2 separate regions of the Homo sapiens genome follow, and region 2 is linked to region 1. Evidence: fine-mapped expression QTL. A gene starts in region 1. The other region holds a variant in brackets. All regions are shown on one strand. Distances are between the middles of the regions.

Region 1 (8,409 bases):
AAACCTCTCAGAGCCATCCACCCCAGCAATGGAGATAATATAACAGTATCATACACCCTACAATTTAATCACAGCATCTAGATATAAACTAGAACTTTGGATCAGTACCATGGTGATAACAATAAGACTTCTATTTCCATATGTGGAAATTAAGACTCCCTAACCCCTTTTATAGAAAAAGATGTGTTTAACTTAGTAGCTTGGCTATATTCCAATTTATACTTTTACCTAAGAATTTCAGTCTTTGGGTTTAGTAGATATTTTTCTTCATTTCCCTTTGCTACACAATAAACATGCAAACAAATAACTGTTATGTGGTGTCACTGGCATGAAATAGCTTCTATATTCCAACACAGATGGGGTATCTTAATAATGGGAAGATGATCTCACACTTTAAAGTGCTTGATATAAAAGGTGCCATATAAAAAGGAAGTTATTATTATTAGTTATAATACCCTAAAAAAGGGATTTGCCATCTAAATGGCTGCTGAAACTTAACTGCAGAATTGCTTATAATGCTACAATCAGTTGAGGCCAAATTCAATAAAAATTCCATCCGGCATTCACACTGAGAAGACCCACATGTGCCTTTAATTTTTTTTTAATTTCCTGGGCTTCCGGCCCAGAAATTGGATGGAAATTGTATTGAAAACTGCCCTTGTGTATCAACTTTTGGTAAATACCAGGCTTTCAGTTGACTCACATTATGCTTTACATTTTGGGCAAAGGGAGGGTATAAAATGATTCACGTCTCTCTATATACATATATTTATACACCTTTTACCTGTCTATGAGACTGTGGCTTATATTAAATGTTCATCATTATTTCTACAATTTTTAGGATCTGCCAGCCCCCACCAACCCCCCCACTGCAACCATAAGACTCAAAATTCCATTAAATCCCTTTCCAGCACTAATCAGCTTTTACTAGCACAGGCAATGTAATCTGAGTTTAGAAATGACTAATTATTTGGAGAGGGCTGGAAGGGGTTAGGGTTTAGATTTCTTTCTAATTTAAAGGAGCTTCTTTCCTGTCTTTCTCCCTGTCATTTTGCTGCCTGTGGCCAGCTCCCCCTCCTTGATGAAAATGCTCTTTCCCTTCCCATTAGACAAGGTATATATGTATGTATTAGAAGAAAAATGTATTAGGAGACATCAAGTTGAAAATATTAAAAGAAGAGCCATGCCTGTGATGGATGTGGGCATGGCAGTAATTGCACCTGCTAGGGGCAAGGCATGGGCATAATTTGCATGTAAAGTTCTCTCGGCTCCTTCCAGAACACACCAGTTCTACCCAATAAAACATTTTGTCACCTGCAGGGGGTTTGCCAACATGTTCCCAGATTGCAAGCAAAAAGATTATTTACAGTAACCAGTAACAACTGAAACAACCATAAACAACCTTTCTGTACCTGTTCTATTTCTTTTTCCTTTGGCTAAGTAGAGGAAGCTTAAGGAGTCCAAATTTACTGCAATTTAATTCTGATGGGGAAAAAGCACATGATTTTTATTTATAGCAGCGTGCTCTATCTATTCCTGTCTCCCCCAACCTCTTTTTAAAACATAAATAACCCCGGAATTTTTTGTAATCCAGCTATTACTCTTGTAGGGATGAGCAGTTTCCTGATAAAGTGAGAGAGGGCAAATGTGGCCAGAAGTTCCCTAATGTATTCAAGAATCCTGTTGTATGCTCATAGAGTAAGGGGGACTAGGGAAAAATCACCTGGTCAAGCCATTCATGCAATTTCTTTTTTTGTTATTGTTGTTGTTCTGTTTTGAGATAGGGTCTTGCTCTGTCACCCAGGCTGGAGTGCAGTGGTTCAATCATGGCCCACTGCAGCCTGGACCTCCCAGGCTCAAGCGATCTCCTCCTGCCACAGCCTCCCAAGCAGCTGGGACTGCAGACACACACCATCATGCTCAGCTAATTTTTAAATTTTTTGTTGAGAGGCGGTCTCACTGTATTGCCCAGGCTGGTCTCAAACTCCAGGGCTCAAGGGATTCTCCCACCTCAGTCTTCCAAAGTACCAAGCAACTTCTTTGTGGCAATTGGAAATGCAGGGGGCCTACATGCTGACTTTGCTGTAGGGAGCGGCACCTTGCATCTGACTGACCTGGGTCTTACCTCTTGTCCTCAAACCCCCTCTAGGAGAGTTTTTCCAGAAGTTCAGATTTCATTCTGAATTGCAGAGGACCACGCACGTATCTCTTGAGAAAATGATCAAACGTGAGAAAGTGCAGTTAAACCAGGCCTGGTTTGCCCAGGTTGCTTCTCTTGATGAGGTGTTGCTTCATTCCATCTGCAGGAATCACAGGGAGAGGATCAAGGAGAGGAAACAGGGCCATAAACTGTCAAGTCTAATTAAATGTGACTAGATTATTTAATATGAAGGGACAACGTGATACATTTTAAAAACAATGTCAGAGAATTATAAAATGAAAAGTATAAAGTCTCCTCTGCTCCAATTTCAGTCTCACTCACTAGGACTAACAATTGTTAACAGTATCCTTAGACATCCTTTCAGAAATTGTGAATGCATAAATATGGATACATACACACAAAAGGGTGCGTGCGTGTGTGTGTGTGTGTGTGTGTGTGTGTGTGTGTGTAAGTGCTTGTAAGCACAAAAACGGTACAGGTACCAACTTTCCTGTGCCGATCAACAGTACATGTCCCAAGTTCTCCTAACAATACCGTTTATTTATTTTTTTATTTATTTAGAGACAGGGTCTCCCTCAGTCTTTTGGTCTGGAGTGCTGTGGCACAATCATGGCTCACTGCAGCTTCCACCTCCTGAGCTCGAGTGATCCCTCAAGTGCTCCTCCCACCTCAACCTCTCAAGTAGTTGGGACAACAGGTGCGTGCCATGACGCCCACCTAATTTAAACTTTTTGTTTGTTTGTTTTTTGCAGAGACAAAGTCTCCCTATGTTGCCCAGGCTGGTCTCAAACTCCTGGGCTCAAGAGATCCACCTGTCTTGGCTTCTCAAAGTGCTGGGATTACAGGAGTGACCCACCTCCGCCCAGCCTCTAAGGATACCTCTTGGAGGTCATTTATGCCAATACTAGTAGATGCACCTTTCTCTCTGCCGCTGTATGTCTCCACTGTATTTTATCAGCCACTCTCCTAATGAAGGACAGGTAGGTTGTTCCCAACTGTTTTTCGTACAACTAAAGTTGCAGTGTTTGCACGGGTTTGACTGGAAGTAAGTCACCAGCGGTTCAGCGCAAAGGCTCAGGACTGCAACAGGCTTATTCAAGTCCGGGTTCTCCAACCCACCACTGTGTGTATACTTGGGCAAATAAAGGTGGTAAGATCTACTTCACAGGGTCCTTGACAGAATATAGTTGCGATTATTCTCACAACTGACTCATTGAAACTTTAAGCAAACCAATTTCCTCATCACTAAATCCGGGAATAATAATAGATCCAGGTTGCTCTGGGGACTGCATGAACTAATTGATTTAGCGCAGTCCACGACCTGCTACCTAGTGAGCCCTTAATAATTATCCGCTTTAATATTAAAATTGGCAATCTTTGCGCACTTGTGGGAGCGCAGCTGCAGGAGGCTTTTCTAGAAGTGGAATTCCTGCCTTAACCCCGTGTTCCGAGGGCCCTAACTGCGTGGCACGAGGCCACCCGGAGGTGACACGGTGACCGCCGCCCAGCCCGCGCCGCCGCCCAGGGCCCTGCGGAGGCCGGACACACGTGGGTGCACGCGGCCGAGCGCAGGGCCGCGCGGGGTCCGGCCGGCGCAGAGGCGCTGGGGGCGCCGCAGACGCGAGGCTCGGGACCCAGTTGGCTGCTCCGCCGCGCTCCCCGCCCCTCCCTCCCTCCAGTCCGCCCGGTCTCCCCTCCCTCCAGCGTCCGCGTCGGAGCCGGAGCCGGAGCCGGAGTGGCGGAGGCACGGGCAGTGCTCGCTAGGCGCCGGCAGCAGCCACAGCAGCCTGGCGCTTGGCGGCGGCGGCGGTGGCAGCGGCGGGCGGGCTGGCGCCGTGGACTGGGCCGGGAACCGTGCGGACGAGGGTGCTGCGCCTGCGGCGGCGGCGGCTTACGCGGGCGCGCACGGCGGCCCCCCGGGCCCGGACTAACTGCGGCGGCGGCGGTGGCGGCGGCGGCGGCGGCGGCGGCGGCGGCGAGTGGGCCGTCGGGGCGGGCGTCTGGCGAGCTGCAGAGACCAGGTAAGTCCGGGATGCCCGACTCCTGGCGCCGGCCGGGCCACAGGGATGAGCCACCTGCCAGGGCAAACTTTACGCCCTGGCTTCATGGCTCCTCAGCCCCGAAGTTTGTTTGCAGGGAAATGCACCTGACGGGTCGAGAATAAAAGATGCTTCTCTCATCGGACTTGCTCTGGGGAGATTATTTTTCCCCTTCTGGGGCGAGGATTGGTTTCGGGTTGGGAAGGCTGCATCCCCAGCTGGAGCGCTGAAAATTGAGTGGTAGGTCCCTTGGGCTTGCCCTTCGCGCAGTGGATTTGACCAGTTAAAGTTGGGGGAAAAAAGTTGTGACTCCTAGGGATGCTGAGGAACAATTCCAGGTGCATGATGCAGAATGTGGGAATGTGATACCTCTTTGCTGGAACCACCCCCCAGGCCCAGATTCCCAGGTCTGAGAAAGCTAGGGTGGCCGATTCTTTCATTAGCGATCAAGTTTTCTAAGCTGCATTTTCTTTCTACTCACAGATCAGCAGCTTGGGACGGAGTTCCCCGTCGCGTTTATTTGTCAGGTTTACCCTGCTGCGCTGTAGTCCAGGTTTCCTGAGCTCGGACCCTGGTTTCAGCTGTTTCTGTGTTCTCTGAGGAGCCTGCAAAGCTAACCAAGCAGGTAACAGAATAGCAGAAACAGAAAACCAGGAAGTGCCAACCGGGCACCGGGGTCATAGCACCATCAGGAATTTTTTCTGGTCGCGTGAAATGAACGAACAGCTTCTGGGCTCTGCTTGTGCAAAGCTCCGTACAACTCTCCAATCCGTATGTCTTTCCCTGTATTGCATTTGCTTATTGATTTACAACAAGGAGATGTGTCCAGAGGTATTATTTAATAACAAACGGTGTCCGCTACGGTAAGGACAGCAAACCTCCTTTCAGAGGCAAAGAAAGGGGAACAGAGCTCTGGGAAAGGGGTAGCCAGTCTGCTAACCTCAACCCAAGATGCAGGGAAACAGAGCTAGAAAAAGCAACAGACAAGGAGGGCGTGATGTGCAGGAGGGAGGTCAGAAACCCCAGCTCATATGGTGAGTAGGTAAATCCAGAAATAATTTTAAAATGATTAAGCAAGAATAACTAAAAAAAAAAAAAAAAAAGTAGGAAGACTGTACGTGCTGTGGTTTCTGTCTACCCCCACAGAGATGAATATCACACTAGCTGAAAAAGAATCCTGATCTGTAAATAGATTAAAAACAGGAATTAATCAGAACAATGAGTCAGAGCCCTTCAGAGATTGAAAGGAGGAGTAATTGCCTTTGAAAGAGCTTATATCTCAATATCAAGTCAAATGTGTTACTTTTGCTTTGCTAGATGTGTTTACTAACAGTAACCTGACTTTGGCTGCAGTAACCTGGCATCTTGGTTCATGGTTTTAACCATTTGTGGGTCATGGGACTAGGGAGAAAGTTGACTGCAGGTTAATATTCATATCAATTTGTGCAACATTTGTAAGATGCCTAATACGTGCATGTCACTGGTTGCAATGGGAGAGGTCCTTGTGAATGTTCATTAAAGAAATCTGATCGGGTTCAGCCTCACTAAATGGAAGGATGTTGGCTTGCAAATAATAAAGAGTGGGGTTGGGAATTATTGGTCTTTGAATACTTGCTTGAAATTAGTTGAGAGTAAACATGTGGTTTGAGGACCCCCAAAATGATCAGTATCCACCAGGGAAATATAGCAAATTGCTGTACACTTTTATAAGATGAATAGTAAGGCTGAATGCATGCAAGTGGCCCTTCTGTCTAAAAGTAGGATAACCGAGACACCGAGTGTCTAATTGATATGCAGGGTAATAGATTCAGGCTGTGGCCGCCACAGACAATAACATTCAGCCTCATGTCCTCCTCACTGTCTGGATGTCATTAATGTCAGCCCGAAGACATGAAGATGTTAAGTTCATTTCTCCAGGAGAACTCTAACTTTTAAATATTCTTCACAACACAACCAGATAGCCCAAGTGTACCTTAAAATGGCAACAAAGCATTTAATAGGAGCAAAGTGCTGAGCACTTTCAAGTAGAGAGAAGATTAGCCGTGGACAACAAGCTGTAGCCTTTCCTTTGCTGATTTATGTTCAATTTTATCACTGTCACATTTCATATATGCCCAGTTATTACAAACTAATAGCCTCTTTTCTCTGCTTGCAAAATATGCATCTTTCTCTTTTACAAGTTCCTAACTCCTTCTCACACATTCAGTACACATCTTCCAGCTTTGTTTTTACTGCAAAATTTAAGTGTCCAACTTGAAGTTCTCATTAACTCTTAATATGGTTCATGCTGAAATAGTATATAGATATAATTGCTGCTTCCAAACTGTCAGATCTGTATATCGCTATACTGTGGCAATACTACAAAACAGAGAAGCTTTGACTGGTTTCCAATCACCAGTTAGTAAGTTGTTAGCAGTAAAACTAATGTTAATTTTATGTAGTGGAATATATTCAGATGGCAGGAGGATTTATTGATGCTGTGCATGTTTGCCTGCTGTCTCTGATTTAGTTGTCACCACCAGTCTGCCTTTAAGCCTTCTTATCTTAGCAAGGTACTTTGTCTCTATGAAGGTGAGCATCTTTAAGGTGCTCACTTGTAGTTTTTAATATGCACACATGCATATGCATATACTTTTAACATGCATATATAATTAATCACTTAATGCTGGTGGACAGTTTCCTTTCTTATGCTTGAAAAAAGTGCAATGGAGAATATCATTGTTGCAAAGATAGTTGGCAAGAGAATATGGGGCCACGGAACAGTTTAAGATAGAACATTTCTTTGAAATTGAGGGGTGACAGATCTCATTCTCATATCCAATTTGTATAAACATTTCAGAAATGGATCGAGTGTTGTAAATGGTTTTTATCTTATAGTCTCCCCTGCACTCATCTCTTAAACACAGTGGGACATTTCTTTGGAAAAATTGCTGCAGGAGAAATGCACTCCCTGGTTGAAACTTTGTATGCCAAGTTTCAATCCATAGTACATTTTTATTTTCCCCCTTTTATGTACATGTTATAAACAAGAAATAAGGGTTTGTAATAGAAGTGCTGGCAGAACTTTATAGCATTTCAAACAGCTTTGCTACTTGGAATGTAAATATTTGTAGAATCTTTACTGTGCAAGAACCTGCCTTGCAAGGAATGAGGAAAAATGACTATTTTCTTAAGTAGGATAAAATAATTCAGTGAGTTTGCATATTTCTTGTTGCAGACCTATTGGCATTTGAAGACATAGATTATCTATGTTGTAGTGATTCCATAGCATTCTCTTAGGTGCCTTTATAACTCAGCTTGTAAATTTCCTATGTTCTAAAACAAGAGAACAATTTTGTCCCATTTGTTTTTTAAGTCCCTTGACTTTGATTACCTTTCAGATGTTAAGATATGAGATCCATATTTCAAAACTGCTTGATTATATTACTGATAAATGAGGCTGTCAGTATACTGTTTTAATAGGGTAAATCTTGACACCATCACAATACTTCAAGTGCTTTTATTTTGGGGAACTAGTACAACTCAGACCTTATATGTCCTTTTGGTTCTAACCCTGAAATATCTCTCACATTCGCCCACTTCCCTCCATGTTCACCCACGTCCTCCTTCTCCAAGTCCCCATCTTCTCTCCTGGGATAACTACACTGGCTTCCTTGGCTCCTTTCGTACTTCTTCCCCCAAATCATCCTGCATAGCAGCCAAGACTTCTTTTTTTTTTAATGTAAGTTAAATTAGTACTCATCTACTCAGAATGCTTAAATGGCTTTTCATTGAACTCAGAATAAAATCCAAACTATTAAATATTACCTGCAAGGCTGTGTGGGATTTAAACACTACTGTCCCTTTGACAATTCCTAGCAAGCTTTTAGGAACAAGAGCTTCTTAGACCCTTTTTCATTTCTGCAGATGTGTTGAGCTCTTTCCTATGTTAGGGATCATTCTGTTCTTTTGCCCAGTAGCCCTGTCCAGCCCTAACGCCTAAACACACATACGCACACACGTGTGCACACACACAAACTCACAGGGTTTTTTTTTTCATTTTTGTTTTTTTCGACAGGGTCTCACTCTGTCACCCAGGCTGGAGTGCAGTGGTGCGATCATGGTTCACTGGAACCTCGACCTCCTGGGCTAAGTGATTCTCCCACCTTAGTCTCCTGAGTAGCTGGGACTATAGACACACACCGCCATGCCCTGGCTAATTTTTGGATT
Region 2 (8,409 bases), 50 kb before region 1:
ATAATTTAAAGCTCTTTCCAAACCTGGTTTCTGTGATGGTAATGAAGAATATATTTATATACCAACATGCACCTAAGAAAGGTTATTTGACTCTCATTTTAGTTACTTATTGTCTAACTAATAGAAGTGGAATTTTACAGAAACAAATTGCACATGTAGGGCATTTTTATTTTTATATACTCTATTAACATATGGTTTCTTTTAATTTCTATCATACGAAGGAAATAACACAGATTACAAATTGTTCCTTAATGTAGAGGCTCATTCCTGTTCATAGAGCCAATTAATGGCAGAAAGGAGAAAAATGCCCACATTTCCTAAATCCCAGAATGTGCTGCCGTTCTTATCTATGCTACTATCAGCAACTTTATGGTCTCAGTCACCTCTCTGTGACACATTAATCAAAGACAAAGCAAAAAGCCAGTCAGACAAGAGAACCAGGGATGAAAAATTGGGTAAAATTGAATTTTAAAAAATATGAGTCTAATTCTGTGGCTGTACCCATAAGACGCAAAATGGAATGATCAGACACTGATCCTCTCGATGTGATTGTTGTGATCAGTCAAATCCAACATAGTCCTTTGGAATGTGACCATGACCAGCTAGCAACACCTGGTTCAGTCAGGTACAAAAGAAGTTCCTCTTCAAAGGTTTGGCTTGTTCAGCGTCCTTGTTCTTTGTTCCCTACTTTGAAGGCCAAACTAACTTCCTTATCCTTTGTGCCTCCCTGTTTCAGTTTCAGAAACACCTTTCCTGCCCATCCTTATCTACACGGCCCATATCTGCTACCCACTCTGTAAATTACCCCTCCTGTCATAACGGCTCTTCCCAACAAAACTGCCCTATCTGCCAGTGTAACCACATTCCTGCACCATTCAAGTTAACCAATCAGGTTCAGCTTAGATTTTGTGGTCCAACTCCAGCCAGTGGAGGTAAGACACAGTAGCAGGGACAAGCCGCATTAGGGATAAAAACCCCTTCCCTCCTTCATTCAGTGTGCTCTTATGGTGACCAAACTTGTGAGCAGCACCCTTTTGCAGAAATAACTTTTGCCTTGCTGAGAAATCCTTTGTTTAAGTGCTCATTTTCTTTGCAACTCCAAGCTTTACTTCTGACAGTTCCAATCCTAGCTCGAGGACTTCTGGACTTTGTGTCCTTCTGCAAATCATTTCTCTTCCTTAATCCTTAATCTCCTCAGCTATTATATAAGGAATATAATTAATAACCACTAAGTACCTGAAAGCCCTAACATTGCTGACCCCCATCAGGGCAACCCAAGCCTCCATAACCTTAACAATACAATGTGGTTTCAGACCTCTCCCTCATATCTCATGGTTTTTGTTAAGATGATTTTAAATAATATCTGTGAAGGAATTTTATAAATTGTGGAGCACTCTATTGTTTGTTTCTGGTTTTTGGGAGTTGATTTGATTGTCAGTATTAATGTTAAGATTTGAAAATCTTCAAATTTGCACTTCTGTTCATATATGTTGCAAACTTCCCCCTCCTTTAAAAACAATCAACTGGTTATCCCTCAGTTACCTATTTTAAACTATTCATCTTTTAAAGAATTCCAAGAGTTATATGTGAATTGTGGATTTCAGCAATGTTTACTTTGAATGCATTGGTAAAAAGCAGTCTTCATTTTTTTATAAATTCAATGGATTCAATGAATGGAAATTATCAAATTCAAGGAATTATACCTATTCTTCATAGACTTCAGCTTGCTCAGAGAAATAACCAAAGTTTTGTCTTTAATTTGTGTCTGAAATTACAGGTTAAAGAGATGATAAAAATTGTTGTTCAATATGTAAATGAATATTTGCAATAGCAATTAGCAGAAAAGAGCTAAATTTAGACTAGCAGCCAATAACAAAATTCGGGAAAAGAAACATAATAAAAAAGTAATACTATCAGAATCAAAATCAGTATATTATGATTATTCCACAGTTCTGTAGCTTTAACATTATTGTTCTCAACTTTTAGTTTAATGAAGGTATGAATAGGTGTATGCCCATGAATCCACTATTACCTGATACTAATCACTTTCTAAAAATTAAAAGATGTTTGTTTCCTATTTTTGCCATAAACTAGAGTCTTTCTATTTTCTCTCCTCTTCTGTTTCTTGTCTCCACCATCTTTGCCTTCTTCTACTCTCTACAGCAATCTGTTTCCTTCTGATAAGTCTCATATCAACTTTTCTACATGATTCTGAATGTGATGTGTTACATAATCCTGGCAAAGAGAGATAGGGAGATTACTCCTGGAATTCAGAGTGAAAGTGGAAATGGCTCAGGGTCACTTGTGATGCAAGTGTCACAATGTATTCCACAGATCCATTTAATTCACCCCCGTATCTAAACTAAGAATCACCTGTAATATAATGGGAATGGCCATAGATTGGGAGTCAGGACACCTGTCATTGCAACTCATTTACTGCAAGACCTTGGAAAAATCACCTTGCCTCTCTGTACCCATATTTGTCTATCTACTATGTGGCACTCCTTCTTTCTTAATATCTTGCAGGCCAATGATTTGCACACTTCAGATTATTTAAGAGTCACCTGAGAAAAGTGTTAAATACAGATCTGGGGGCTCTCTTTCCAAAATATTCTAATTTAAAAGACCTAGGATGTGGCCTGGGAAATCAACAAGCACTTGAGGTAGCCCTGATGTAAGGAATACATTAGGTTTTTTTGTTTGTTTGTTTTGTTTTGTTTTTAAATTAATTTATAAATTTATAATAACCTGTCCTTGGCTTCTTATAAATGGAATCATTCATATATGATTGGGAAGTCTGGCTCCTCGTATGCAGCATAATGCCTTTAGTATTGATCCATGATATTGATAAATAGTGTTGTTCAAGTCTTCTGTTTTGTTATATTTTAAGTCTGTTTCATAAAAAATAGCATATACTTGGAGCTTGCTTTTATATCTAGTCAGAGAATGTCTGAATTTTCATCAGTGTTAGATCATAACATTATTAACCAAACTAAACAAAAAATTAGGTCCCTATGAACATATTTTGATAAATGTAGAAAAATGTGCCGAGTGCACATCTAGTGCTGTATATTTTCCACTTTTTCTGGCAATGTTGTTGTGTCAACTTAGTATTCCTGACAATAGTTGGTTAGGAGAACAATGAAAATATGTATCTATAAACTGGTGTTGATGTTGCACCATAGTTTTATAGGTTTCACTATGAAGCACAGGCATACACAACCTACAGAAAGTATTATTGGTAAGAATATGTCTTAAAACAGAGAGGAAGTTGGAGGCATTTACAAATCTGTCAAGTTTATAAGCCAAACGAATAGACACAGTTGTCAAACTAAATCCAATAATTTTATTTTAAAAGTATCCTTAAAAATAAGAGATATGTTAATAAACTAATAAGACCAGAGCTAAAAGACCCAAATGAAAAGAAAAAAATAAGTATTGCCAGTGGAAAATTTTTAACTAAAAAAAAAGGCAGTGGTTGGGATAACACAACGGAAATGACTTTTGGGAAGTTATGATAATAGACTCTATTTTCCAAGAGTAGTTATTAACTATATCCCAGAATTAGTGATTAATTTTACATATAAGATTATGTTTAAATCCTTTGTCTAATATAGTAAATCTTTAGTTTGAAAATGGAAATATTCCATTTTCTTCAGGAATGTCTAATTTACTAAGTATCAGAATGAGGCTTTTATTACTCAATATGTTCAATAATATTTGTGAACTGATTTTCTAAATCCTTAATATCTGTGGTTATTATAAACAAAGGAAGCATTCAAAGGGGATTAGAAATATGTGAGTGAATTACCATTTAAATAAATTTGATTCAGCCCAGAAGGGACAATAGAAAGACTTTCGGTCTCCATAAATCCACTTTAATGTCAGTAAACAAATGGCCCAAAGTAGTTTTATCTGGTTCTGGCTGTAAAGGGTGAAATGCAAGAAACAAGACTGGGAAAACGGTCCTTTCTGTATTGCAGCCAGAAAAAGGGAGCTGGCTTCGATTGTGTGCCAGTATGATTTTAGCTCCTTAGCATAAATGTTATCTGTTTGTATAATCTCCTAACTTAATTTATTCATCCATTTTAATATATTTCTAAAATGTAGTTTCCATACATGGCCTCAATTTGTTTCTGAAATGGTCATAATAAAAAGCTCCGAACTAGTATTATAAATGACTACAATGGAACTTTAAATGGTACCATTTAAAGATTCAAAATATGTTGCCCTTCTTAATGATTCAAATTCTGTTAAATTATGTTCATGCTGTTTACTGATTTGTATATTAGAAGAAGGCAAGCATATATATATAAACATATATATATGTATATATGTTATAACATAGAAAGTTGACAGAACTAAAGCAAAGGAGGGGTAGTTAATGATGATAGTGCTGATAATACCAGATTCATGTATCTGATGCTTGTAATAATAATAATATAGTACGTAACATACGGCTCATAGTTCTATATCTCCTGCTGTATGATCATTGTCTCAATTAATCTCCACAACTCTATAAACTATCATTCTTATTACCCCCATTTTACAGTTAAATAAACTGAGGCACAGAAGGATTGGGCTCCAACAGCCAGTCTCTAGAGCACATATTATATAATGTAGGTAAATGGCTGTTTATTTCCAGTGTCTAGCACATAGTACGATCTCAAAATTTATCTTGGAGGATTAAATGATTTGAAAGATTTGAATGATTAATTTTTTTCCAAATTTATGCAGTAGTCCTCATGTTGGTGTTTCTATATCAAAAGCCAAAATAAGATTAATCCATTGCATTAGTTCTGCTTTTTTCATTCAATTATTGACTTTTAGCTATAAAAGTATCTATACTGAGGCAATGTTTCTCTATATATAATACAACTTTTTATTTGAAAGTAATTTTGGATTCTCAGGAAAGTTGCAAAGATAGTAGAGCAATTTTCTGAATAACCTTCATCCAGTTTCCCTAATGTTATCTTGAATAATAGCAAGTATAGAACATTTG[C/T]CAAAATTAAGAAATTAACATTGGCTCAACACTATTACAATTTAACCTCAAACTGTATTTGGATATCAGGAGCTTTTCCACTAATGAGCTCTTTATGTACTAGGCTCCAATCCAGAATACTGCATTATGTTTAGTCTTCTCTAATCTGTGGCAGTTTGCCAATCTTTTCTTGTTTTCCTTGATATTGACAGTTTTGAAGAATATTAGATTTTTGGTAGAATGTCCCTTAATTTGGTTTGTCTGGTGTCTTCAAAGGATTAGGCTGGGTTATTGGTTCCGAAGAAGAATGCCAGAGAGGTGAAGTGCCCAACTCATGACATTACATCATGGGGTACATAATATCAATTTAAGTTACACAGAGTATGTTAACCTTGATCATTCGGTCAAAGTATTATTTGTCAGGTTTCATCATTGTAAAGCTATTCTTTTTTCCTGTTCATAACCTATTCTTTGGAAAAGAGATACCAGGTCTAACTCGTAGTGGAGAATTAATCTCCACTTCCTGGAAGGGAAAATATCTACATATATTATTTGGAAAACTTCTGCAAGGATGATTTGTCCTTTATTAAAGAATGCCTCATTTGCACCTGAAAAGAGAATGAAGGAAGTCAAGAAAACTGGGGAGAAAAACATTATCATAAATTTTGTAAATATGATCAATCACTGTGGTCAATTTAGAAATTTGATCATGCTACTGGAGTGGCCCTTTCCAATATTCAGCCACTGAGCACATTTTCTACTCAAATCTCAAAGCTCTCTGTCCCCAAGAACCTGGGGAAAAAATATATGTCCTCTCATACTCAGCTACATTATTTATTGTCTTCTAAGACCTAACCTAAAGAAAAAACGTAAAAGCTTTGTATTCCCAATATGACTAAGCTATCAAAAAGAGTGAGGGGAGCAAGAATGGGGCAGATAAAGGAGATGAGCAGGAGGTGGTCTCAGTTAAGTCTAGGCTTGACCTGGTCCACAGTGGGCTCTGGATGTAGTTTCTATCAACTGAAGCAGTGTCTTTGGAGAAGGGCGTAGCTGCCAGCTGTTAGTTGCCACCATTCACAGTAGCTGTTAAATGGGTGCACTTGGCTGTAAAAGCAGAATCTAGGTGGGAAACCAATGGCATCCATTATGTTGTATGCTTCACTTCTCAATTCAAATGACTAAATATTTATGAAGAATAAATTATGCTCCATGTAGATAGATGTAAGGTGTTATAATAGATATCACATACATGATTTTATGTAATTGAGGCATGGTTCCAAAACTCTGGAAGAGATTAATAATACACTAAATGTTAATAATTGCCTTCCTTTATGTTTTTCATGTGTATATATACACACATATTTACATATTGCATATTTGTGCACATATATAATGTATATATTACATAACATAAAATGTATACATTATATATAATATATAGTGTGTGTATTAGTTTGGAGAATTATTTGTTTTTTTCCCTTGCAGAAAACAGGCAGAAACCTATTTTGAATGGATATCGTCAAAAATAATAAGACAAATTTTAGAAAGTAGATTAAGATTCAATGATTTCCAGCGGAAAATCCTCCAAAGCACTAGAGTATATTTTTCACAATCTCTAGAGTACTAAGAACAAAACATAATTCTTTATGTGAAAAGCACATGCCATGCTTTTCTTGTGTAAATGGCATGAAATTACCCTTATAAATGGGGTATCTGATAGCAAAAAGGAATCATGTTTGTTTAATCCAAGCATTCAAGATAGATGGTTCAGCATTAAAAGAATTTGGAAACCAATGTCTTCAAACAACAAGTGCATGAGTAGCCACCAGTGCATATCTTGTGACTGAAGAAATGTATAAAGATCTGTTGTGCAACAATAAATCAACCCTTTAGAGAAAACAGGAAGTGTCAGGGATTGTAACTAGGTCAGATACAGAATATAAATTCTATCACTTCCTGGTTACTAGGAAGAATTTGTGCTCTTCTGAGCATGGAGAAGTGAGGTGATTTTAGGATAGAAAGGTGCTAACACCAAGTAGCATTTATTTTAAAGTCTCAAAGGCTCAAAAGAGAGAAAACACCTCAAAGTTTTGAAGAAGTAACTAAATTTATGCCACAATTAATAACTGCCCGTAAGTGTAGAGACCATGCCGGATTAGAGTGGTGTCCTTATGACCCAACTGAGGGCTGGAAATGTAGGATATTCTCCAATATCAGCTGAATGAATTAATGTAGGAATAAATGAATGAAAATATACCAGGAAGCTGTAGACTGATCATCTTTTCCTTTGCTCCTATAAATCTAAACAGCCACATTGCTTAGCAGGCTTAAGTCTGTGCTAATTCTGCAAATAGCTACCTCTGTGACCTTAATCAACAGCCTTAACCCCATGTAGCCCTCCTGTTTCATCTGCAAGATAAGTTATTCAAAAAGAGTTCAAAGGTCTTCAGCATATCTAAGATTTGAAAATTTGCTCTTTAATCAGAACTATCATCTTAGTGCCAAGAAGGAGAACATACGGCAACAATGAAGAACAGTATTGTAAAGCCACTAAGTACATGGACTGGGATTCCAGAATGGTCAGACAGATATGGTTTGAGCTCCATGTCTGACGTCTTCTAGCCTTATGATCTCAAGGCGGCTATTTAACAGTTCTTTATTTATAAAATTCAGATGTGATGAAGATTACATAATTTAATTATGTAACATAGCTAGCATAATGTCTGGCACATAGTGAATACTCTCTTTTGTTACTATGGCTGCTGTCAGAGTTGGAGACAGTAAGGTGTAGTCCATCCAAGCAGAATTGTTGTCTTTGCTTTCCTAAGACCAGATACTTTTTTTGTTCTCCAAACTAATAGTGTCATATGAAGTCAGTGTTCTAAGAGCAGACACAAATAATTTAAATACTGTTCTCAAGAATAATTATACAAAAGTAATGAAACCTGGCCAGCCAGGTGACTCACACCTGTAATCCCTGTACTTTGGGAGGCAGAAGCTGGAGGATTGCTTAAGCCCAGAATTTCAAGGCCAGCTTTGGAAACAAAGTGAAACCCTGTCTCTACAGAAAAAAAAAAAAAAAAAAAAAAAAAAAAAGGATTAGTGGGGTATGATGTTGGCATGCATCGGTGTTCCCAGCTACTCGGGAGGCTGAAGTGGGAGGATTGCTGGACCCCCAAAGATTGAGTCTGCAGTGAGCTGTGATCACACCACTGCATTTCAGTCTGGGCAACAGAGTGAGACCCTGTCTAAATACATATATGTATATACAAAAGTAAGAGAACCCAAGAGATTGTTGTTATGACCCCTACCTCCACATGCAGAGGTTTGTAGGTTCTTTGATAGTGTAACTATTCCAGGTCAAAAATAAAGATTTTATGTGTGACATTATTCCCCTAGGGAAAGTAGAAGCCAAAAATATTTTACAG

The links. PIP is the estimated chance that this variant, and not a neighbour inherited with it, causes the effect.
Region 2: its variant is fine-mapped to the expression of CNTN3 in spleen (GTEx, PIP 0.92).

What each region holds. Positions count from the first base shown.
Region 1 is chr3:74,610,164-74,618,572 of GRCh38, reverse strand. It overlaps CNTN3 (contactin 3), which reads left to right and starts at 3,914. Exons shown (of 23, transcript NM_020872.3): 1 at 3,914-4,182. LOC105377166 (a long non-coding RNA gene) reads right to left here and starts at 4,770. Exons shown (of 3, transcript XR_007096257.1): 1 at 4,682-4,770; 2 at 2,126-2,300.
Region 2 is chr3:74,660,336-74,668,744 of GRCh38, reverse strand. No RefSeq gene overlaps it. Among named protein-coding and RNA genes, the nearest start is that of CNTN3, 50 kb to the right of the region's middle. The variant C/T (reference allele first, on the strand shown) is at 5,003.